Homo sapiens: one gene and its partners. The protein of the gene in region 4 purifies or fractionates together with the protein of the main gene of each other region. This does not show direct contact. Each region holds a gene or a part of one and is shown on either strand. Other genes may lie near its edges. The genes, in order: SLC37A3, ECI1, TSPAN15, CD276 and MVP.

The links.
Region 1: the proteins of CD276 (region 4) and SLC37A3 fractionate together in Homo sapiens (co-fractionation; one large-scale study listed by BioGRID). This does not show direct contact.
Region 2: the proteins of CD276 (region 4) and ECI1 fractionate together in Homo sapiens (co-fractionation; one large-scale study listed by BioGRID). This does not show direct contact.
Region 3: the proteins of CD276 (region 4) and TSPAN15 purify together in Homo sapiens (co-immunoprecipitation; one large-scale study listed by IntAct). This does not show direct contact.
Region 5: the proteins of CD276 (region 4) and MVP purify together in Homo sapiens (affinity purification with western blotting; one study listed by BioGRID). This does not show direct contact.

The regions. Positions count from the first base shown.
Region 1 is NC_000007.14:140,345,867-140,350,563, reverse strand, and holds part of SLC37A3 (sugar phosphate exchanger 3), read left to right. Parts: intron 1-1,796; coding exon 1,797-1,938; intron 1,939-4,593; coding exon 4,594-4,695; intron 4,696-4,697. UniProt on the Homo sapiens protein: Unlike the other SLC37 members, lacks glucose-6-phosphate antiporter activity.
Region 2 is NC_000016.10:2,248,234-2,253,720, reverse strand, and holds the start of ECI1 (enoyl-CoA delta isomerase 1, mitochondrial isoform 1 precursor), read left to right. Parts: upstream 1-2,133; 5' UTR 2,134-2,154; coding exon 2,155-2,206; intron 2,207-2,291; coding exon 2,292-2,405; intron 2,406-5,487. UniProt on the Homo sapiens protein: Key enzyme of fatty acid beta-oxidation. Able to isomerize both 3-cis (3Z) and 3-trans (3E) double bonds into the 2-trans (2E) form in a range of enoyl-CoA species, with a preference for (3Z)-enoyl-CoAs over (3E)-enoyl-CoAs.
Region 3 is NC_000010.11:69,502,887-69,506,434, forward strand, and holds part of TSPAN15 (tetraspanin-15), read left to right. Parts: intron 1-1,551; coding exon 1,552-1,599; intron 1,600-3,237; coding exon 3,238-3,354; intron 3,355-3,548. UniProt on the Homo sapiens protein: Part of TspanC8 subgroup, composed of 6 members that interact with the transmembrane metalloprotease ADAM10.
Region 4 is NC_000015.10:73,682,491-73,687,771, forward strand, and holds the start of CD276 (CD276 antigen isoform a precursor), read left to right. Parts: upstream 1-1,892; 5' UTR 1,893-1,970; exon of another isoform or gene 1,971-2,409; intron 2,410-3,728; exon of another isoform or gene 3,729-5,281. UniProt on the Homo sapiens protein: May participate in the regulation of T-cell-mediated immune response. May play a protective role in tumor cells by inhibiting natural-killer mediated cell lysis as well as a role of marker for detection of neuroblastoma cells.
Region 5 is NC_000016.10:29,840,361-29,845,057, forward strand, and holds part of MVP (major vault protein), read left to right. Parts: coding exon 1-99; intron 100-1,235; coding exon 1,236-1,480; intron 1,481-1,554; coding exon 1,555-1,752; intron 1,753-4,132; coding exon 4,133-4,519; intron 4,520-4,697. UniProt on the Homo sapiens protein: Required for normal vault structure. Vaults are multi-subunit structures that may act as scaffolds for proteins involved in signal transduction. Vaults may also play a role in nucleo-cytoplasmic transport.

The DNA of each region.
Region 1 (4,697 bases), on a different chromosome or scaffold from region 4:
CTCCATCTCTTGATCTCATGGTCTGCCCACTTTGGCCTCCCAGAATGCTGGGATTACAGGCGTGAGCCACCGCGCCTGGCTTGCCCCCTTTTAAAGGGTCCAGAAGAGAGCACTCCACAGTCTTTCTTGGTAATGCATTCCAGTGTTTTCCACAGCCTGTGCAGTCAGGAAAGCCTTCTAACGTCTACACTAAATCCCTTCTGCTGCAGTTTTTCTGTCTTGATGTTTCGGGCACTCTAGCACTGGAGTGGAAGTTAAGAGGCCTAGGTTATGTTTCCAGCTTACCCACTAACTTTCTGTGACACCTGGGGTGAGTCACGCAACCCGTCCGTGTGTCTCAGTTCCCCTTCCCATGGAATAGAAATTATTCCACTCTTCCCTGGGGCCTGTAACATTGGGCTGTTGTGTTTTGAACAAGCACCTGTTGTTATTTCATTTGTCAATGGTGCTTTATGAATGTGATCCCTCAGGTAGAGTGATCTGTAGGCCATCTTAATACATGCCTGTCAATCCCCTTCTGTCAGTGCCTCCAAGCTGAGAGAACTAACATTTCCAACAAAGTTAAGTATGAATTAAAATGTAATTTTCCACAATTCTTTAACCCAGTGATGATATATGATATAAGAGAAATGCAGGTTGCTTTAGACCTGTTCTTATGCTATTGATTATTATCTTTTAACTGGTTTTTAAAGTACTCTGCTGGTAATAGTTTAATTTTTGAGAAAGAACTTTGTCGTGACTAAATATGGACCTCTTTTGCTGTTCCTTTGTTCTTCACAAGCTATTGTTCTCTGACATGGGCAGGGATGTAAAGGAAATCTAGTTAACTTAATTCCTTTGTCTTTGTAGCAGGCTGTCTGGTCAGAATGCACTCGTGATTGGGATTTGGCTCTCTAGGGGGTGGCTGTTGCCTGCCAGGGAAGCTGTTTTAAAACAAGTGATACCTAGGGAATAACTGGCAGCTCCAGGGAAAAGAATATACTAGCCAGACACCCTTTGAAGTCAGCCCCTCTGTCCCCCCCCCCTTTTTCCTTTGATGCTGAATGTCAGGATTTCCTGGTAGTAATGTGTTGAATATAGGAGTCTCAGCCCCACCACCATCTTCATGCAGCTGCAGCATTTTTTTCCCCTCAAGGGAGAGCCACGAGGCCGATGATGACATGTTCTTTCATTTTTGACTCGCCAGAGAGACTCTCTTCTTTGCCACCAGACCAGGGAATGTGGAGCTTTTGAAAACTAGTGTGAAAGGAATTATCATGCTGCTGCTTTTCTTAGACCGTGGAACTGTAGTGTAGTCCCTTTGCTGTCCATTGTTCACAGTGTTGCCTTGGCAAGGAGTAGAATAACCAACCCCGTTTGGCTGCTCCCAGTAAAGGCCGTGATGCTTCCTGGACTTCTTTGCCTATGGTTAACGCTGGTTAGTGGCATGAATACCATTCCTCTTTGTGTGAATAAAGAAATATGGGTATGTGCTCTGCCTTATAGGTTCAAAACACTGGCTTGCTTCTACCAGAGAACTGATAGGAGGAGAAACTGGACACAGCTAAGAAGTAGCCATAGGTGTTTTTTATTCCAAAGGCCTGCTGTACATGCCTGTCTAGAAGTTAACAGGGATGAAGAGCAGAGGGAGACTAGCTGAAGTCAGGCATGTGGGAGTTTGTAGAGATGTTTAACTGTAAAATCAGGTTCTGTTCATCCTAACTTCCTTTATTTTGTTTTGCTTTTAAATGACATTAAAAATGGTAGTCGTGCTGTGCTATTTGTCCCTCGCTGATAGTTGAATGCTTTTCTTGTAGTACTCACTGGCCTACGCCTGCTTGAAGTTAGTGAATTACTCCTTCTTCTTCTGGCTCCCCTTTTATCTGAGTAACAACTTCGGCTGGAAGGAGGCGGAAGCCGACAAGCTGTCCATTTGGTACGACGTTGGAGGGATCATAGGTATGCCGGTGATACATCTTTTCCATAATAAAGAGTTAGTCACTAGTGATCTTTTACTGGGTTGTGAAATCTGGCCTCATTTAAAGTTTTATTACTTATTCTACAGCCATTTTCCCTAAACTGTCCTACTAGTAAACAGCCAAACTCAAAAAAAAAAAAAAAAGAAAAGAAAAGAAAAGAAAAAACAAGAGGTCCATAGAAAGGAAGACCTAGCCTAAGGCAGCGCTGTGATTTATTGGACTCTTTTTTCTTAGTCCTTTGTTGATGGATCAGTTCTTTTGTCTCGGGAAGCACATGGGAATCTCTTTAAATGCAATCCTTTCATACGGCTTTCTCAGTGATATCTTAGCTCTAAAGCTAATTGTATGTCAGAGATCCAAGTTAGAATATGAACGTGTTCATTGTATCTACCTCCCACCTTCCCCACCTTCCCCAGCCTAATAAGGAAGAATACACCAGTCCCCCACTTATCTGTGGTTTCACTTTTCGAAGTTTCAGTTACTCTTAATACCGTACAATAAGATATTTTCAGAGAGACCATTCATATAACTTATGTTACAGTATATTGTTATTATTTTCTATTTTGTCGTTATTGTTAATTTCTGTGCCCAACTTATAAATTAAACTTGATCGTGGGTATGTATGTATAGAAAAAAACATAGTATGTATAGAGTTTGGTACTGTCTGTGGTTTCAGGTATCCACGGGGGTCATGGAACATATCTGCTGAGGATAAAGGGGAAATACACCTTAGTGTGTAGGTCGTCAGATCATAGAGGTAGACGTAACAGCAGGGATTAATTTTTGTGAATGTTTTACAGTTGTTTCATTATAAACAAAGATTTTAATAGTGGTTTTTTTTTTTTTTGCTGTAGCTAGAAGTATCAACAAGGAGGTAATAAGTATGAACAAGGAAGTAAGGCAGAGGAGCAGAATGTATTTTAGTGGGTATTACTTACATGGCTGTGCCAGATCTTAATAACCTTCAATAATGTTAACATTTAGAATTGTGGTGAGACTCAACTGCCGTGAGCTTGTGAAAGCACACAGTCTGTGCTAGGCAATCTGCTATTACTGTATTTGAACTTGGCTGCCCGTATTCTTAAATCCAGAGCCAAAGGTGAGGTTGCCACCGTTAGACCTCACCATATTCTGTATCCTCTGAAGTTGAAATTGTCCAGCTGCCTGCTATCTGATAAGGACACACCAGATGTCCAATAGCCCCTACAACTCAGAATGGTGCTGTATGTGACATTGTTGCTTGAAAGATTCATATCCCTGCTTTTTAAAGATTGTGTCCTATTAGCAAACCATAACTGCTAAATTTTATTTTAGTGAATATTTACTAGCCACTTTTTTTTTTCTTTTTTTTTTTTTTTGGAGATGGGGGTACTGCTCTGTCGCCCACGCTGGAGTGGCACGATCTTGGCTCACTGGAGCCACAACCTCCTGGGCTCAAGCGATCCTCCCTAAGTACCTGGGGCTACAGTCATGCACCACCACACCCAGCTAATTTTTTTGTATTTTTTGTAGAGATGGCATTTCACTGTATTGCCCAGGCTGGTCTCAAACTCCTGAGCTCAGGCAATTTGCCCACCTCGGCCTCCCAGAGTGCTGGGATTACAGGCGTGAGCCACTGTGCCCACCTACTGGCCTCAATATACTGTAAGGCACAGTTTTTTTGGTTTTTGAGACACGGTCTTGCTCTGTTGCCCAGGCTAGAGTGCAGTGGCACAATACAGCTCACTGTAGCCTCAGCCTCCTGGGTTCAAGCAGCACGATACGGTTCACCACAGCCTCAACCTCCTGGGCTCAAGCCATCCTCCTACCTCAGCCTCCCAAGTAGCTGGGAATATAGGCACGTGCTACCATGCCCGGCTAATTTATCTTTTATAGAGATAAGGGCACTGTGTTGCCCAGGCTGGTTTTGAACCCCTGGCCTCAAGCAGTCCCCCAGCCTTGGTCTCCCAAAGTGCTGGGATTATAGGCATGAGCCACCATGCCCAGCAAGGCATAGTTCTTAATTCATTATCTTTCAAATTAAAAAGAAAAATCAAAAATAGCATTCACAACTTGTTTTTGTAAGGGATAGCCGATGGCTTTGACAGTTTTTCCTTTTTTCATGTTTTGCTGTCTGATTTGTGGTCTCCTGTCCCCACTGGTCATCATGGTGATTTAACAGACAGTTTATTCCTAAAAGGAAGTTATGGAGGACCCCTTTTCAGGGAGTCAGACCTATTTTTTTTTGAGACAGAGTCTCGCTCTGTCACCCAGGCTGGAGTGCAGTGGCGCAATCTCGGCTCACTGCAAGCTCCGCCTCCCAGGTTCACACCATTCTCCTGCCTCAGCCTCCTGAGTAGCTGGGACTACAGGTGCCCGCCACCACGCCCGGCTAATTTTTTTGTATTTTTAGTAGAGACAGGGTTTCACTGTGTTAGCCAGGATGGTCTCCATCTCCTGACCTTGTGATCCACCTGCCTCAGCCTCCCAAAGAGCTGGGATTACAGGTGTGAGCCACCGAGCCCGGCCCAGCCATATTTTTTGATAGACTAGTGTCAGGCTGCTGCTAGTGAGACTAGAGGGCAAATGGGGAGCACGCCTCAGGTGAGCGAGCTAAATTAGAAGTGATTTTGATTGCTCGACACTCTGCTTGAAGGTGGAACTTTGCAAGGCTTCATCTCTGATGTACTACAGAAGAGAGCGCCGGTTCTTGCCCTGAGTCTGCTTCTGGCAGTTGGGTCCCTCATCGGGTATAGTCGT
Region 2 (5,487 bases), on a different chromosome or scaffold from region 4:
TAAGAGTCAGTTCAGTGGCAGAGCCACCAGGGAAAAGTGAGGCTCTTGGGGGTGGTTTGACCCTGCTTACCTGGGAGCACACTTTTCCCTTCCCCGATGACCTGGGATGGTGGCCAGGCCGTGCCCTTGCTGTTGCTGGGCAGTGTCCTTTTGGAAAGGGAGCTGCCCCAGGCTTTAGTGCAGCTGCCAACCCTGTTAGGCCTGGCCTCTCGAGGCCTCTTCTGACCTCAAGGGTCACACCCCCTCAAAGATCCTCTCACCCATGGTAGTTGCTGCTCGTGGTTCTGTCTGTCCGTGCACCGATGCACACACCGCACCCCACCACTGTACTCTGAAATTGGCGAGTGAGTGGAGAGCCAGCTCTGCGGAGTCATCACGCAGCCATGGTTGTGCCTGCCGTTCATGGTGGTCTTTCAGGTTATCTTGGCAACATGTACATTGCTTTTATTTTTTTTCTTTTTTGCTTTCATTGTACAGTCAGTACTATAAAATTTCTCTTTTGAGTTTTATACCTTTGTAGCATTTTAGATGACATTGTGTTTGTACTTTGTTGTGTAGAGTGGAAGAATTGTGTTGAATAAACCCAAGATCGGAATGCAAATCTAGTTCTGGGTTCACTGCCTTCTCACTTGTCCCCTCGCCCCTAGTAACTTTCTGTTCCTCACCATCCGCAGTGGCACCTCCGATGCTTTCAGCCAGGAGAACCTAGGGTTTGTGTGCTGTGGGGACCAGGTTGCTCCTAGGGTGGACAAATAGAAGGAGATGGTTTTATCGCCACCTTGGAATGTGTGTGTGTTTTCAGACAGACTCTCGCTCTGTCACCCAGGCTGGAGTATGTACCATGGTGCGATCATAGCTCATTACAGCCTCCAACTCCTTCTTCAGTGTCCAGAGTAGCAGGGGCTAATTTTTTTTTAATTTTTTAATTTTTTTTTTGAGACAGTCTCTGTTGCCTGGGTTGGAGTGCAGTGGCGCAATATTGGCTCACTACAACCTCTGCCTCCTGGGTTCAAGTGATTTTCCTGCCTCAGCCTCCTGAGTAGCTGGAATTACAGGCACCTGCCACCATGCCCAGCTAATTTTTTGTATTTCTAGTAGAGACGGCGTTTCATCATATTGGCCCGGCTGGTCTCAAACTCCTGACCTCATGATTTGCCCACCTTGGCCCCCAAAGTGCTGGGATTACAGGCATGAGCCACCGCGCCCAGCAGCAGGAGCTAATTTTTAAGAATTTTTTGTAGCAACAAGTTGTTGCTATGTTACCCAGCTGGTCCTGAGTCACTGGGGTTACAGGTGTGTGTCACCATGCCAGGCTTGCTTCCTCCTCCGTTAAGTGGCCATTTTTCCACCTCAAAAATTGGTTTGGGACACAAGGAAGAATTGGAAATGCTTAAGATGAGAACAAAAGTTGAGACCACCCAACACAGCTGGGACCTTACTGCCCAGTGCTCCCAGTGGTCTGACCAAAACCCCACACCAGACAGTACAAAGGCCCACTCCCGAGCTGCCGCTTACGGCCCAGCGGGAACAGACTGTATTCTTATCTTTCGGCATTTCTCTGCAAATAAAAAGGTGCCACTGCGGTCCGGCCTTTGTGCACTTGCCCTTGTGCTGAGCAAGGCGGGTGGCCTGTTCTTACCGCTGGGTTCTGCTGCCCCCACCCCCATTTCGGTGACTAAACCTGCAGCTCTGATCCTGTTCCCAAAGGGGCAGGAGGCCGGGCTCACCCCAGGCAGCCCCTGGCCTCCCTGACGGCCCCCTCGGGAGGGGTTCCGTGCTTTGATCGCCTTTCCAGCGCCGATACTGCAGTAGCTGGGCCCGGCCGAGAGCTCGCGGTCACGAACACCGGCAGCCTCTTGCCTACAGTGTCCCGCGCTGTAGAAGAGCCTGCCCTGGCGCTGAGCTGGTCGTGGCTGCTTCAGCAGTGGGCCTGCGCCTCCTTGTAGGCCAGCCCTGGCCCAGATCCAGGTGCCTGCCCCGGAAGCGCGCGGCTGCCCGGGGTGAAGCCGGAGGGCGGCGAGCGGCTGTTTCGGCCGGTAGGTGGAGGCGTTGACCAGCCTCTGGGAACGGGGCGGGACCTAGTTGGGGGGGCTCCGCCCCCTCCCCAGGAGGCGAGCTCAGCCCGCGACCTTTATCCCGCGCGTTGCGGTCAAGATGGCGCTGGTGGCTTCTGTGCGAGTCCCGGCGCGCGTTCTGCTCCGCGCGGGTGCGAAACCCGGGGTGGGCAGGGATCGGGCCGGGGCCGGGGCCAGGACCGGGAACTAACGGGCTCCCCCACGCTGCCTTCGCAGGGGCCCGGCTCCCGGGCGCGGCCCTCGGGCGGACGGAGCGGGCGGCCGGCGGCGGAGACGGCGCGCGGCGCTTCGGGAGCCAGCGGGTGCTGGTGGAGCCGGACGCGGGCGCAGGTGAGCGGGCGGCGCCGAGGGAGGGCGGGCGTGGGGTCAGGACCCGCGGGGGTCCGCGCTCGCGGGGTGCTGTCGGAGAACCACGTCTGTCGACGCTCGGTTTGTGTTTAGAACCCAAGTTTCGAAACAGAACCTTGCCGCTCTACCTGGGTTCGTTCGTCATGAGATAAAAGTTTCTGTTTTTAAAGTTGGCGGAGGCCGGGCGCGGTGGCTCACGCCTGTAATCCTAGCACTTTAAGAGGCAGAGGCGGGCGGATCACCTGAGGTCAGGAGTTCGAGATCAGCCTGGCCAACATGATGAAACCCTATCTGTACTGAAAAATACAAAAGAAAAAAATTAGCTGGGCGTGGTGGTGCGTGCCTATGCCTGGGAGGCTGAGGCAGAAGAATCGCTGGAATCTGGGAGGTGGAGGCTGCAGTGAGCCGAGATTGTGCCACTGCACTCCAGCTTGGGCCACAGAGCAAGATTCCGTCTCAAAATAAATAAATAAATAAAAATAAAGTTGGCGGGGATATGAGCTGTTATCTAAGTTATTCAATTGGAAGTGGAAAAGAATTGGAATCTTTTGGAATAAAATTACGTTTGTTAACACTCCCATGTGGCACAGAACCTCGTACCTACCCGCCCGTCAGAACCCTTGGTAAAACCCACTGGAAAGGATAGAAAAAGTACTTTTGGAAGAGAAGCCTGTGCGCTCCCTCCAGACAGGAGGCCGAGCTGAGGGCACCGAGAGGGCACGCCTAGGCGCCAGCAGTTCTGCTTCCAGGACATGCTGACCTGGACCTCCCGGTGCAGCAGTCCCTGCTGTGGCTCCTGAGAGGAGGCCCTCCCCCTCCGCAAGTAAGTCACAGCCCCTGCCCTCCCCAACCCCCCAGACTCAGGGCTGTGCCCAACTTTGCACAGCTTCAGGACTCCAGGCTCCTGGTGCCTCTGAACTTGGTTCCGTCCTCTCTGTCTGGGCTGAGGGAGCTGCCTGGGCTCTCTCTACAAACTTGAGAGGGACAAACTAAGACCAACTTCAAACTGACTTTTTTTTTTTTTTTTTTTTTTTTTGGAGATGTAGTCTTGCTCTCCAGTCGCCAGACTGGAGTGCAGTGGCGCAATCTCCGATCACTGCAACCTGTGCCTCCTGGGTTCAAGCGATTCTCCCTCCTCAGCCTCCCAAATAGCTGGGATTACAGGGACCCACCACTATGCCCACTAATTTTTGTAAAAACTGAGTTTCTGAAGGGATCATTTCTGTAGCATATTTGAATATATCTCAACAAAATGCAAAAAAAAAAATTATTATTTTTTTTTTTTTGAGACAGAGGCTCCCTCTGTCACCCAGGCTGGCGTGCAATGGCGCGGTTCCGGCTCACTGCAATCTCAGTCAGGCCTGACTTTCTGACTCCAAACTCTACTTTGTCTTTTTTTTTTTTTTTTTTTTTTTTTTTTTGAGACGGAGTCTTGCTCTGTCGCCAGGCTGGAGTGCAGTGGCACGATCTCCGCTCACTGCAAGCTCCGCCTCCCGGGTTCACACCATTCTTCTACCTCAGCCGCCCAAGTAGCTGGGACTACAGGCGCCCGCCACCACGCCCGGCTAATTTTTTTTTTTTGGTATTTTTAGTGGAGACGGGGTTTCACCATGTTAGCCAGGATGGTCTTGATCTCCTGACCTCGTGATCCACCCGCCTCGGCCTCCCAAAGTGCTGGGATTACAGGCGTGAGCCACCGCGCCCGGCTTACGTTGTCTTTTTATATGGTAAAGTGGGGAGGCACTCGAGTAAAAAAATTGTCATTGTACGAACACTTTTCCTTTTTTACCGGAGGTAATGTGTGTGTGTGTGTACATAAAAATCTTTAAAATATGCCTCACATTTACCATTCTAGCCATTTTGCAATGTACAACCCCGTGGCCGTAAGTATATTCACAATGTGTAGTCCACACTACCCATTCCAATACCTTAAGATAACATGTTTTTGAGTCCGGGCCCGGTGGCTCCCACCTGTAATCCCAGCACTTTGGGAGGCCAGGGTGCGCGGATCACGAGGTCAGGAGATTGAGACCATTCTGGCTAACACGGTGAAACCCCATCTCTACTAAAAAATACAAAAAAAAATTAGCCGGGCGTGGTGGCGGGCACCTGTAGTCCCAGCTACTTGGGAGGCTGAGGCAGGAGAATGGTGTGAACCCCGGAGGTGGAGCTTGCAGTAAGCCGAGATCGCGCCACTGCACTCCAGCCTGGGCAACAGAGCAAGAATCTGTCTCAAAAATAAATTAATTAATTAAATAAAATAAATAAATAAATAAATAGGAATGACAACCACATGGATGAACCTTGAACACATGATACTAAGTGGACAAAGCCGACAACAAAGCCCGGCGGTATCCCAGTGATATGGAATATGGCTGGAGCAGGAAAACCGCAGACACAGAACGCAGACTGGCGGCTTCCAGGGGCTAGGGGTGGGATGAGGAGCAACTGCTCATGGGGACAGGGATTCCTTTTGGGACAATGAAAAGGTTCTGGAACTAGGCAGCGGCGATAGTTGCACAACACAGTCAGTATACTGAATTGTGTAAGTGCCTGACTTGTTTACTTAAAAATGGCTAATTTAGGCTGGGCACAGTGGCTCATACCTATAATCACATCACTTTGGGAGGCCGAGGCAGGAGGATCACCTGAGGTCAGAAGTTCATGACCAGCCTGGCCAACCTGGTGAAACCCCGTCTCTACTAAAAATGCAAAAATTAGCCAGGCATGGTGGTGTGTCCTGTAATCCCAGCTTCTCAGGAGGCTGAGGCAGAAGAATGGCTTGAACCCAGGAGGCAGAGGTTGCAGTGAGCCGAGATAGCGCTGCTGCACTCCAGCCTGGGCAACAGAGCGAGGCTCTTGTCTCAAAAAAAAAATAAAGATAGAAAATGGTTAATTTGGCCGGGCATGGTGGCTCACACCTGTAATCCCAGCACTTTGGGAGGCCGAGGCGAGGTGTTCACGAAGTCAAGAGATCGAGACCATCCTGGCCAACCAACATGGTGAAACCCCATCTCTACTAAAAATACAAAAATTAGCTGGGCATAGTGGCGCATACCTGTAG
Region 3 (3,548 bases), on a different chromosome or scaffold from region 4:
ATGTTCATTATCTCCCTTTCTACAGTGTAAGTTCCATGAAGGCAGGGACTTTGTCTTGTTGTTCTGTATTTCAAGTGACTAGAACTGGGATTGACATGCAATAGGTGCTCAGTTAATATTTGTTCAATGAACAAATGAATGAACCAATGAGATGGAAAGCACTCACTCCCATCATGTGCCCGTGCACCTGCTCTCCAGGCCTGACCCTCTCCATAGGGGTTGTGTTTATGGCCTGGAAGGGCCAAAAACACTGGCTGACTAATGCCCAGTGGGCACTGGGCATGGCTGGGACTGAGGCTACCTGGAGAACCAGCTAAACCGAGGGAGGTCGTCTTGCCTGCACATCAAGCCCTGACATTTAGAATGACCTAGATGACATCTGAGGCCCAACCCTCTCTCGGAAGGAGAGAAGACACCCTCCCTTTCCTTTGCAGGGGCTGGAATTGTGAACAAATCACGCCAGCCAGCATTCTTGTGCTCCTCCATGTGCCCAGCCCCGTGATAAGCACTTTATATGTGTATCTCACTTTATGTCCAAAACAGCCCTAGGAGGTGGGTTCTGTGATCATCACAACCTATTCATTCATTCATTTTCTCAGTTAACAAATATGTATTGAGTACCTCTGCGTGCCAGTTCCTTAGCAGCCCACCTAAGGTTGGGCTCTGCTCCTAAGTGGCAGAGCAAGATCTGGACCCAGGAAATGTGACACCAGAGGGCACGCTGGGGGCTCTGCTGTTGCCCTCCTGAGTCATCACTGGCGCCTGCAGCACTCACGGCAGCGTTCACTTACATGTAGAGCAGCGGGGCTGGGGGGGACGGTCATGGGCTGGACCAGGAAGTCTCACTCTCTTCCCTGGTGGTTGGAGAAGGAGACCCTGCGGGGCACAGGTGGTGATGGGAAGTGCCCGCGGCAGCCTGTGAGTTAGGGCCTGCCTGGGGAGGGGTTTGATGAGGTCTAGGGCGTGACCACAGGTTTCCCTATGCCTAAATTAATCAGTAGTCGGGAGTTCTGGAGAGCACCTCTCTTCCCAAGAAGGAAGTTTTGGCAGCACTCTCCGCTGGTGGAGCAGTGGTCTATGGAACGGAAGCATGGCCAGGGGCCCTGCCCTGGACCTCAGGTAAACCACAGCTGACCCTGTGCCAGCTGTAGTCTGAAGTTTTCCTCCCCAAGAGCCAGCGGCGCAGGAACAGCCCCACCCCGACCTCTGAGACGGTGTGAGCAAAGCGGTGCTCTGGGGCGGTCATAGCCCGGGAGCGTGGGCAGCACACCTTTCTCTGGGGTCCTGATCTGCTGCTAGTGGAGGGGTGGTTCTCCCAGGTAAAAGTCATGGAACCTGCATTCCTACAGTTTTTTCACGGGGCATTTCTTGGAGGAGGAGGTGGTTATGATGGAGACTCAAGCCAGACTGCCTGGGTCGGAATCTCAGCTCCATCCCTGCTGGACGGTGCAACTCTGTGCTTCGGTTTTCATCTGTAAAATGGGTAGGATAATAGTGCCTTTTTGAGTTAGAACCATTATAAATATTAGCTATTATACATTTCCATTTCAGACAGAAGTTGTCAACACCATGTGTGGCTACAAAACTATCGACAAGGAGGTAATGTCTTTGAAATGCCTTTCCCTGGAAATGTTGCTCTTCCTGGTCCACCCTGGGGTGATCGGAGGGGTTTATTGAGGTCGGGGTCCTGGCCACTGAGATTTTCCCACATTCCTGGCTGTGACCCAGAGCCAGGACTGCTGTGGTTTTCCACCCCAGCACAGAAGGGCTCAGGGAACCAAGAATTCCCCCAGGCTGGGAGATGCCGCCTGTCAGGGTTTGCCGAGCACCTACTGTGGGCTGTTCCACATGAAGCCACCACGGCGCTTCCTGGTACCCGCAGCGTGCTGTGTGCCCAGCCATGCTCAGCACCAGCTTGCCTCTGCCCCTGGGGCCACCTGGGACCCAGGAGTCCTAGAGGATGGTAACCCCCTCTGGGGGTTGCTCCTGGGTCAGCTTCCTGGGCAACACCCCTGGTCTAGGAGAGAAGCAGGGGTGGTGCTGAGAAGGGACCTAAAAGGAATAGTGACCTGACATGCAGAGCAGTGGCTTTCAAAGTGGGGTCCCCAGTCCAGCAGCAACAGCATCCCCTAGGAATGTGAGAAATGCACATTCTTGGTATGGGGCTAGTGGGTGATTCTGACACATGCTTGAGAGCCATAGACCAGCAGTGGTTCTCAGCCCCTCAGAACCAATGGCCATTTTTATAACAAACAGTGGTAATGTCCTATTTATTATCCCCAAGTGAAATTCACAGATAACCTACCTACATGCCCAATTCCAATACAATTAACATAATGATCTGAGATAAAGTAGAAATGAAATACAGCAATTTACAGCTGTTTAACATAGTTCATCATGTAAGTGCTTAGGCAGTGGGGGGTGCAGAAGACACAATGTAGTCAGGTGTCTGCACTGATGTGAGGCATCCCTGAGGCTGTAGTAGCTACAGGGCAGCTGATACTGGGCATTGTGTTGGCGACTCACATACCATGGGCATCATTTTTGCCACTGGCATGGTTTTTAAAAACGGTGAACAATTCTTGATAAAGTTCTGAATTAAATAATGTGTAATCATTCCTTAATTTACCTAGTAGTACTTCTGGAAAATTCTTTGTATATTAAAACCAATGCAGAAATGCTTTTTTTTTTTTTTTCCCTTAAGAGACAGACAGGGTCTCACTGTTGCCTAGGCTGGCCTCAAACTCCTAGGCTTAGGCACTCCTCCCAACTGAGCCTCCATAGTAGCTGGGACTGCAGGCACTGGCCACCATGCCCAACTCTGCTTTGTTTTTTATATGTACCTGGAGTGGGGCTATTGGCTTGGATAATTATAAATAGGCTTTTCATGTATGGAAAACATCCGTGAGGCTTTTCATGCAGGGACATCTGAGAAGCACACAGGCAGGGCAGTTGTTTGTGGAGTAGGATTACCCTGAGCTCTGCAGTCCCTCAGCCGCCAACCTCGTTTGCTGGGGCAACCAAAAGTGCCACCACGGTGTCCCCAGTCCTCTCTAGAGAACAGTACTGTCCATTAAGAATCAGAATCTAGGGTCACCTTCTCATGCTGCATATGGGAAACTGAGGATCACAGCGGTTGAGGGACTAGCCTGGACCTTGTGTACATGGCAGAGTCGGGGCTGTGGCTCCTGCCAGCCGAGGTCCTCTGCTGGGCTGACCCAGCTCCTTCCCATGCAGCGTTTCAGTGTGCAGGATGTCATCTACGTGCGGGGCTGCACCAACGCCGTGATCATCTGGTTCATGGACAACTACACCATCATGGCGGGCATCCTCCTGGGCATCCTGCTTCCCCAGGTGGGCAGGCCGTGGGTTCAGAGAAAGTGTGACTTGGTGATTGCAGAAGGGCAGAGAAGGTGCAGAGGGGAAGAGCGAAGAGGCTTTTTTCATAGAAGTCCAGGACTTGCCTGGGGAGGGCTGCATGGCTGGAAGGAGGGGCAAATGGCAATAGCAGTCGTGGCGAAGCTCTTCCAAGTGCTGCGCAGGCACTG
Region 4 (5,281 bases):
GTGAAGGGAAGGAAAGTAAGTTTCTCTAGATCTGTTCAATGCCACCTCCAGGGTCCTGCAGCAGGGCTCCTAGCTCCCTCAGCCCAAGGACACCTCTCCATGTGATGCTACTTCCCCAGGTTGCTGGGCCAACTGGAGGCTACTCATCCTGAGACCTGTAAGGCCAGACCCAGGCTGGACGAGGCTGGTCAGGGCCTGGCAGGGCAGTGGGGAGCAGCGTGGAATGGTCCAGAGTTCCTGGAGGTGGTCAGGGACAAGACAGCTGGGCCTCTCTGCTGTCATCCCTAGGAGCAGTCAGCAATTACACAGACACAGCTGCTGTGTGATTCAAAGACACATATGCACGTAGACTCAAATACAGAGTTGCTTGAATGTGTTCACAAATATACACACCCGGCCGGGCGCGGTGGCTCACGTTTGTAATCCCAGCCCTTTTGGAGGCCAAGGCGGGTGGATCACAAGGTCAAGAGATCGAGACCATCCTGGCCAAAATAGTGGTGCGCACCTGTAATCCCAGCTACTCTGGAGGCTGAGGCAGGAGAATCGCTTGAACTCAGGAGGCGGAGGTTGCAGTGAGCCGAGATTGAGCCACTGCACTCCAGAGCCAGACTCTGTCTCAAAAAAAAAAAAAAGACAAAAACCCCCCACAAATATACACACCCATGCACCACCACCCCTACCCATACACCACACGCACACTTAAATTCAGAGGGCAAATCCCGGTTCCTCCCTTCATAGCTATGTGTCCCCAAGTTACTTAATCTCTTTGTATCTTAATTTCCTTATTTCCGATCTGTAAAAATGAGAATAATGGTATTCACCTCAATGAGTTGTTGTGAAGATTAAATGAGATAAAATGGTAAAGAGCTTACAACAGTGGCAACACATGCAGAGAGACGCACATGTTTTCATACTCATTTCCCAAGCCCTGCCCAGTACTGCCACTGGCACTGGTGGTGAGCCTGGCAGCAGTACAAGGTTGGAGTCCCTTCATCCCTTTGAGCCTTGGTTTTCTCATCTGTGAAATGGGAATAATAATATCTAGCCGGCGGGGCTGTTTGGAGGAACTAAAGAGGCCCAGCATGGAAAGCTCCTAACCTAACTCTGGCCCACAAAAGTCTCCCTACGTTTTAGCTGTCACTGTCCCTGTGAGGAAGAACAGATCCAAGAACAGGTGCAGGGATGGGCTGCACCACAGCAAAATCTGGACAGGCCCGACCCCCATCTCCTCCCAGGCTGGAGCGGGGCCCTGTAAGGACAGAGCCCAAGGCCACTAGGTGTCAGGCCTGTTGGAGCCAAGTCCGGCCAGCAGTCTGGGGTGGGGCTGGGGGCAGGGCTGGTCGGATGGCCGTGGGTGGAAGGAAAAGAGGAAAACCAGCTCAGTGGAAATTGTCCTGCGGTTGGCTCAGGCGCCCACGACACTGTATTTATAGAGAGCTCCTTGCAGCTCTTAATTCCTCGCAGTCGAGTTAACCCTTTCTGGGCTGTGGTGCCAGCATGGTGTGGAGGAAGAACCCAAGACTGGGGTTGGACAGCAGGATTCCAGCCCTGTTCTGCCGCCAGTCGATGACCAGTCAGTCACCTATCCCCTCTCGCAGAAAGGAAGATTCGGCTCTTGGAAGTGTGGGAACGGGGTGGGGGATGGGCAGCGCCCTGCTCCGGGAGCCGAGGGTTTTCCCCGCCAGGGTCAGGCCTGGGGGCGGGGCGGGGCGGGGGCGGGGGCCAGGCCGTGTGCTCTGCCCAGCGGGCTGGCTCAGGCCTCGGTCAGCAGCCGCCACCGCGGGGCCAATCCGGCCTCAGGGACGCACCGGAGCCGCCTTTCCGGGCCTCAGGCGGATTCTCCGGCGCGGCCCGCCCCGCCCCTCGGACTCCCCGGGCCGCCCCCGGCCCCCATTCGGGCCGGGCCTCGCTGCGGCGGCGACTGAGCCAGGCTGGGCCGCGTCCCTGAGTCCCAGAGTCGGCGCGGCGCGGTGAGTGCTGGCGTGGCGCGGGCGGCGCGGGGTGGGGCGGCCTTTGTCTGCTGCGGGCCGGGCCTGGATCCCGCGGAGGTCCGCACGTTCCCGCTCAGGGCTGCAGGAGCTGAGCAGGGCGCCTTCCCTCCGGGCTCCTGCTCCCCTGCCCTCCCCCAGGTCCGGGCGGCCCCCCTCGCACAGGAGTCCCGGGAACCGCGGGCGCCCCTCCTGCCCTGGGCTGTGGGGCCCGCGGAGAGCTGGGGGCTCCCGGATCCTACCCCGCCCCCCTTTCCTCGGGTTGAGAGGGGCCCGGGCGCCGTCGGACCTGCAGACCCCGGAAGCTGCGGACCGGGCCGGGTGGGTGAATGCGCTTTTGCAGGCCCCGGGTCTGGAGCGGGCATGGGGGCAGATCTGTCCCGTGTTGAAGCTTAACGAAGCCACCGGCCGGCGCTGGGAGGTTAGCGGGGTCTCGGGTCCTGCAGAGGAAAACGCCCAGCTCCGGGAGGGGAGCGGCGGGGAGGGAAGGCGAGTGGTTAGGCGTGTCCACTCTGCAGGGCCCAGCAGGGCGAAGGTGTGGGCGACTGGTGCACTTCCACAGGCAGCCGTGGGCAGCATGAGGGGTCAGATTCCGGGAAGGACAGGTAGAGACGGCTGGCAGGGGCCACGGGGTGAATAGGTGTTGGGGGTGGGGAGGGAATTGGGATGGGCAGTTTGGGCTTGGGAAGCCTCAGGGAGGTGGGGGGTGAGGTGGGATGGAGAGGAGATGCGGGCGACGGTGGAGGGAGGTGGGGACCCCGAGTGGGGGCACACTAGAAGGGAGGGGATTGAATTCCAGCGCCCAGGGCCCTCCCTGCGACCGTTTAGCTAGCGAATTGGCAGGTTTGGCAGCCTAAGGCAGGGGATTTATTTCTAAGCCAAACCTGCTCTAATGAGAAAAGCGTGATAGATGACTCAGATATGGGATCTATCACTGAGGGAAAACATTAAGCAAATAGTAAAGCAAAAAAGATTTGTGTGTGTGTGTGTGTGTGTGTGTGTGTGTGTGTGTGTGTGGCGGGTGGGGGGGTGTTAGTTGTCTTAATTTAGAAAAACGATTTACCTTCAAATTGGATGTGGATAATTGTAAATGAGTCTGATCTCTTCATTAAAGCCCGGGGTCCTTTTCTTATAAGCATGTCTTCAGCAGTTAGTTTCTATATTAGAAAGTAATGAAGCTGCTTTGTCTTTAAGAGAGTTCTTTATTTAGTGCGGCCTCCTCTAGTTCCCTCTGGCCTCCCAGAAGTCCCTAGGAAATCTGATGCTGTGCAGCCTTCCTTGTAGTGTGGGGGACTGCAAATAGGTGGGACAGTTTGAGGCTGAGGGGAACTGAAGTCTAAACTTGAAGTCTAAACCTGTCCGATGGGTTGAGCTGATCTGAGTGCAGGGCAGGATGGAGGGCTATGGGGCTGTAGGGTATGAAGTGGCTCATTTCAAGGGAGTATTTTGGGTGAGTACATTTTCCTGATATCTGGAGTTCTTGAGATTAAGCACTAACACTTAGGGTAACTGTTGACCGTGGAAATTTACATACGTCACCGTCAGCTTACTGGAGTATCCTGATGTGAATGAAATTTTCCTTCATGACTTTGGGTCAGCCCTGTGGACCTCAGTTTTTGTTCTGAGGGGTTGTATGGCAAGGGGACGCTGGCGGGAGAGAGCTTCGTTCCTGCATTAAGTGGCCTCAGTGATGCAGTCAGGGTCCCATGACTGACCTTTGGAGTTCTTCCATGTCCTTATGGCATTACTGGTGGTTTCTCCTGCCTGCAGTAAGCTTTCCAGCTTACTCTAGACTCCTGTGCTGTGAGACATGAGCTTGTCAGAGGTAAGGAGCCTGTGTTAATGCAAGTCTCAGGTGAGAAGGGGTGTTGGAATCTGAGGACCCTGTTTTCCTTCCTGTCCCCTCTTCAGCTCTGTCCAGGCACCACCCGATGGAGGGTTGGCTGAATGTCTCATGTTCATATACCTGACAGCTGGCTTCGGTGCTTTAATATTTATGGAAAGGACAGTTATAGAAGTGTGGTCCCTTCAAAGTAGTCCTCTGGGGTGTCTGTGTCCTTATTAGGTTGACTTCTGAAACTTCCTGTGAGAATTCCATCATTAAACTTTGGCTTTCTCTGGAGGGGTAAATCTTTGTTCTTTGGAGTAGGATTTGAGTTTGACAAGGAGCTGGACAATGCTGTTTGGAGTCAGAGATGCAGTGTGATAAGAGAGCTGTGAGTTGGAATTCCACAGCACCTAAAGAGACTCCTAGAAAATGTTGTAGAACAAGTGGCTGGATGGTACTTGGTTGCACATACGGGGTTTGGGGTCTGTGCAGAAAAATGACCAAATCCAAGCAGCCTCTGAGATTATGACCACATGGGGGCTGTTAAGCTGTGGATCTGAGTCATAGGGTCAGGGAAAGAGGAAAAATGGCAAGGAGGATGACGTTACTGCCCATGAGCTTATCCTCTGAGTGGGTGGCGACTTCTCATTGTCCTTTTCCCACATCCCCAGGGCAGGAGTGTTAGGGAAGTCCACCAGCAAAAGGGGGAGGGCACACCCAGGGCCTAGGGGAGGGGGAGAGGGGTGAGGACTGGTCCACATGATTTTTGAGAAATTGCCTTTGGTCTTGTTGGCTCAGAATGGACCCCACACCTGGAAGGGGGCCACGTGTACAGTTATGCAACCCTTGCCTGCCACCCCCAGTTCTACCGCCCTTGCAGTGTGCCAGATAGGAGCATTGGGTTTTCAGGTTTGGGAGTGGGTAGGGTTGTGCTGGAGGCTAAATAGACATTATCTCATGTAATCCTCATAGTAATCCTATGAGGTAGGGTATCATTAACACCATTGTACAGTTGGGGAAACTGAGGCCCAGAAAGGGTAAGTCACATGCCCAAAGACACACAGCCGGCAAATGGTGGAGCTGGGCTGTTGTCTGCTTCCAGAACTGGCTTTTTCTGCTGCTCTGGAGGTAGGCACAGGTTTTACCCCTCTTTCTGGAGCCCGGTAAGATGTGCCAAGGGTCTCCTTAGTAAGTCAGGGAAGACTCATCTGGGGAACCAGAGAAGGGGCAGGCCTGACCTGGGTGACCCAGTGACTAGTGGCCTTCACAGCATAGTCAGGGCCTTTGCTGAGAGTTCTTCTCTTCCAGAGCCCTGGACTTTATCATGCTGGGGCTTCCAGGAGTTCCCCCTCCACCCTCCAGTTCTGACCAGTGCTCCCAGCCAGCTGCCCCCTTTCTCCCTTTCTTTCTCTTTGTGGTCCAGAGAATGAATGCCTGCTCCACACACCTTATGCCATTGGGAATC
Region 5 (4,697 bases), on a different chromosome or scaffold from region 4:
TATGTGCCATCTGCCAAAGTGGAGGTGGTGGAGGAGCGCCAGGCCATCCCTCTAGACGAGAACGAGGGCATCTATGTGCAGGATGTCAAGACCGGAAAGGTAATGGCTGGGAGTGAGCAGCAGTGCTGCCACGTGGCCTTGGCCTTGGTGGCGGCTTCCTCTGGGTGTGTGGAAGAGGTGGGCAGGGACTTCAGCAGCATGGAGAGCCATATCAGGTGGGCTGTCTGGTTGGGGGAGGGCACTACGTGGAGTGTTTGCCATCCTTCTGCCTTAAATGTCTCATTTGAAATGTTAGAACCAACCAGGTGCGGTAGCTCACATCTGTAATCTCAGCACTTTGGGAGGCCGAGGCGGGCGGATCACCTGAGGTCAGGAGTTCAAGACTAGCCTGGCCAACATGGGAAACCCTGTCTCTACTAAAAGTACAAACATTAGTCAGGCGTGGTGGTGGTCTGAGTAGTCCCAGATACTTGGGAGGCTGAGACAGGAGAATTGCTTGAACTGGGAAGCGGAGGTTGCAGTGAGCCGAGATCACACCACTGCACTTCAGCCAGGGTGACAGAGTGAGACTCTGTCAAAAAAAAATATTAGCATGTCCACTGAGAGGACAAGTGGGGGTTTAGGACAGGGACCCTTTCCCACAGCAGACCTGGTTTCCAGCATAAAGGTCTGATGGGGTGGCCAGGGAACAGGAAGGACCTCCTCCCTCATGCCCATATCCCGGTGGAATCTTTCATTTTTTTCTGCTTCACCTAAAACCTTGACCTTGATTTGACCTCGGGCCACATCTCCAACCTTCTCTAAGAATCCAAGCTGGAAGTCCAGCTTGGAATCCGAGGGAGCATCCGTGTACACAGCCTACTTCACCATCCCCGAGGTGCCCTCCAAACTGCCCCATGAAGGAAGATTCTAGAAATAACATTGAGCACCTTCTCTATGCCAAGAGCTGTTTGAGCTAGACATGTGAAGATGTCATTCACCCCTAGACCCTGCAAGGTAGCCACCGTCAAGTCCACTTGACACATGAGGAAACTGAAGCCCAAGGGGTGAGGTAGTTAGCCCACGATGACAGGGCCAGCAGATGGCAAACCCGGGGTGGAGCCTGGCCTCCCCGTAGAGAAGGTGTTTAACCTCGTGGCGCGCCTTCCCTGGATGGGCTCTGCTTTGGGACAGCTGGGCGGATCTTCCTCCCTTCCACCCTTACGGGCAGCTTCCCTCCCTGTCCTCGTCCCAAGGTGCGCGCTGTGATTGGAAGCACCTACATGCTGACCCAGGACGAAGTCCTGTGGGAGAAAGAGCTGCCTCCCGGGGTGGAGGAGCTGCTGAACAAGGGGCAGGACCCTCTGGCAGACAGGGGTGAGAAGGACACAGCTAAGAGCCTCCAGCCCTTGGCGCCCCGGAACAAGACCCGTGTGGTCAGCTACCGCGTGCCCCACAACGCTGCGGTGCAGGTGTACGACTACCGAGAGAAGCGAGCCCGGTGAGTGCTGGCAGCGCAGGGTGTAGGGGGTGGCTCTCCATGGGTCTGGCTCTGACCCTCGGCTGTCTCTGCAGCGTGGTCTTCGGGCCTGAGCTGGTGTCGCTGGGTCCTGAGGAGCAGTTCACAGTGTTGTCCCTCTCAGCTGGGCGGCCCAAGCGTCCCCATGCCCGCCGTGCGCTCTGCCTGCTGCTGGGGCCTGACTTCTTCACAGACGTCATCACCATCGAAACGGCGGATCATGCCAGGCTGCAACTGCAGCTGGCCTACAACTGGTAAAAATGGGGACAGGGCATGGGGGTGCATTCCTGGAATCCCAGCACTTTGGGAGGCTGAGGTGGGAGGATCACTTGAGCCTAGGAGGTCCAGGCTGCAGTGAGCCTTGATGGCCCCACTATACTCCAGCCTGGGTGACAGAGCAAGACCCTGTTTCTTTGTTTTTTGTTTTTTTAGTTTTTTGGTTTTTTGGTTTTTTGGTTTTTTTTGAGACCGAGTTTCACTCTTGTTGCCCAGGCTGGAGTGCAATGGCGCGATCTTGGCTCACTGCAACCCCCACCTCCCGGATTCAAGCGAGTCTCCTGCCTCAACCTCCCAAGTGGCTAGGATTACAGGCATGTGCCACCATGCCCAGCTAGTTTTGTATTTTTAGTAGAGATGGGGTTTCTCCATGTTGGTCAGGCTGGTCTCGAACTCCTGACCTCAGGTGATCCGCCTGCCTCGGCTTCCCAAAGTGCTGGGATTACAGGCATGAGCCACTGCACCCGGTCAACCCTGTTTCAAAACAAAAAAAACAAACCGGGTGGCAAGCAGTGGGTGAGGGTTCCTGCTGGGTGCAGCCTAGGAACCCCAAGAAAAGGAGGGTCCTGCTCAAGTGCTGGTGCTGGGCTCCTCATGAAGGCAGGACACCTCATTCAGTGCTGAGGTCAAGAGGGAACCTAGGAGTTCACGCAAATCCAGGGAAGGCGTGGGCTCACCTCCTGGGGTCAGGACTCAGGGATCCAGTAGCAGGACACTACCCCAACTAAGCTCCCAGTGAGCGTGCAGCCAAATGCGTAACTGTCGGGCTGTTAAAAGATGCATGGGACACAGCTGGCGGGAGTGGGCAGTGCAAGGGGGCGGTGAGAACTCAAGTTCAGAAACTGACTGCCCTGGCCTGCGCCCCCGCCCTGCTGTTTGCAGCCTGTGGACCTGGGGAAGGGACAGGGTGCTTTCCTCAGTTTCCCCATCTGTAACATGAGGAAGACAGCATTTTCTCCTTCACAAGGCCATTGAAAAGATGCAATGAGTGTTAGAACAGTGCCTCTATTGGTCAGAGCTCAATAGCAGCTATTAGGATTGGGTGAGATAAGTCATGTACAGAAACAGTGTTCATGACTGGGTACTGTGGCTCACACCTGTGATCCCAGCACTTTGGGAGGCTGTGGCAGGAGGATTGCTTGAGGCCAGGAGTTTGAGACCAGGCTGGGCAACATAACAAGACTCTGTTTCAAAAAAAAAAAATTTATAAACTAGCTGGGCATGGTGGTACATGTCTATAGACCCAACTACTTGGAAGGCTGAGGTGGGAAAATTGCCTGAGCCCAGGAATTTGAGGCTGCAGCAAGCTATGATTGTGCCACCACACTCCAGCCTGGACAACAGAGACCCACAGAGACCCTGTCTCGGAGGAAGGGAGGAAGGGAGGAAGGGAGGAAGGGAGGAAGGGAGGAAGGGAGGGAGGGAGGGAGGGAGGGAGGGAGGGAGGAAGGGAGGAAGGGAGGGAGGGAGGGTCAGGCGTGGTGGCTCATGCCTGTAATCACAGCACTTTGGGAGACTGAGGCAGGCAGATCACTTGAGGTCAGGAGTTTGAGACCAGCCTGGCCAACATGGTGAATCCCTGTCTCTACTAAAAATACAAAAATTAGCCAGGCCTGGTTGTGGGCACCTGTAGTCCCAGCTTGTAGTCCCAGCTACTCAAGAGGCTGAGGCAGGAGAATCTCTTGAATCCGGGAGGCGGAGGTTGCAGTGAACCCAGATCGAGCCACTGCACTCCAGCCTGGGCGACGGAGCAAGACTGTCTCCAAAAAGAATATTCAATACTCCCAAGCATGTCCCTCACCTCTTAGCTGAGAGCAGCCAGTGCCCTGATGGCGGCAGACAGCTGCCGACATATTCCCAGGGCTGCCGACATATTCCCAGGCACTACAACATCATAGTTAAGAGCACAGGCCCCAGAAGCAGCTGCCTGGTTCAGCTTTCTGGCTTGTCACATGTTATATGGCAAGTCTTGGGCCAGCCACTTGACTTCCCTGGACCTCTACTTCCTCATCTGTAAAATGGGGGTGGTGATCATTGCCATCTCATAGGGTGGCTGAGTGGGATTAAAGGAGAACGTGTGTTAAGTTTTTAGGACCTTACCAGGCATACATTAGCATTCTCTATTGCGAGAGACCCTGCCCGGCCACACAGGATGGGTGTTGAAGTTCTTCTCGGAGAGAGTTGCTGGCTGGGCGTGATCACACATGTAGTCCCAGCACTTTGGGAGGCTGAGGTTGGGGGGTTGCCTGAGCCCAGGAGTTCAAGACCAGCCTGGGCAACATGGCAAGACCTTGTCTCTTCTAAAGAGAGATTCCTGGGTGAAAGCAGCTTCCCCATTCTGGGCCTGTTTGTTCACAGGCACTTTGAGGTGAATGACCGGAAGGACCCCCAAGAGACGGCCAAGCTCTTTTCAGTGCCAGACTTTGTAGGTGATGCCTGCAAAGCCATCGCATCCCGGGTGCGGGGGGCCGTGGCCTCTGTCACTTTCGATGACTTCCATAAGAACTCAGCCCGCATCATTCGCACTGCTGTCTTTGGCTTTGAGACCTCGGAAGCGAAGGGCCCCGATGGCATGGCCCTGCCCAGGCCCCGGGACCAGGCTGTCTTCCCCCAAAACGGGCTGGTGGTCAGCAGTGTGGACGTGCAGTCAGTGGAGCCTGTGGATCAGAGGACCCGGGACGCCCTGCAACGCAGCGTCCAGCTGGCCATCGAGATCACCACCAACTCCCAGGAAGCGGCGGCCAAGTAAGTGAGGCTGGGAGCTCGGCTGCCTATAATGCCCATGGCAGGCCACTGCTGGGAACTGGATAACCTGGCATCCCTTGTGGACTGCCTGCTGCCATCCCTACCCTCAAAGATCTATTCCCTACCCAACAGATCAGGTGACCCACTTAAAATGTGAATCAGGCTGGGCGCGGTGGCT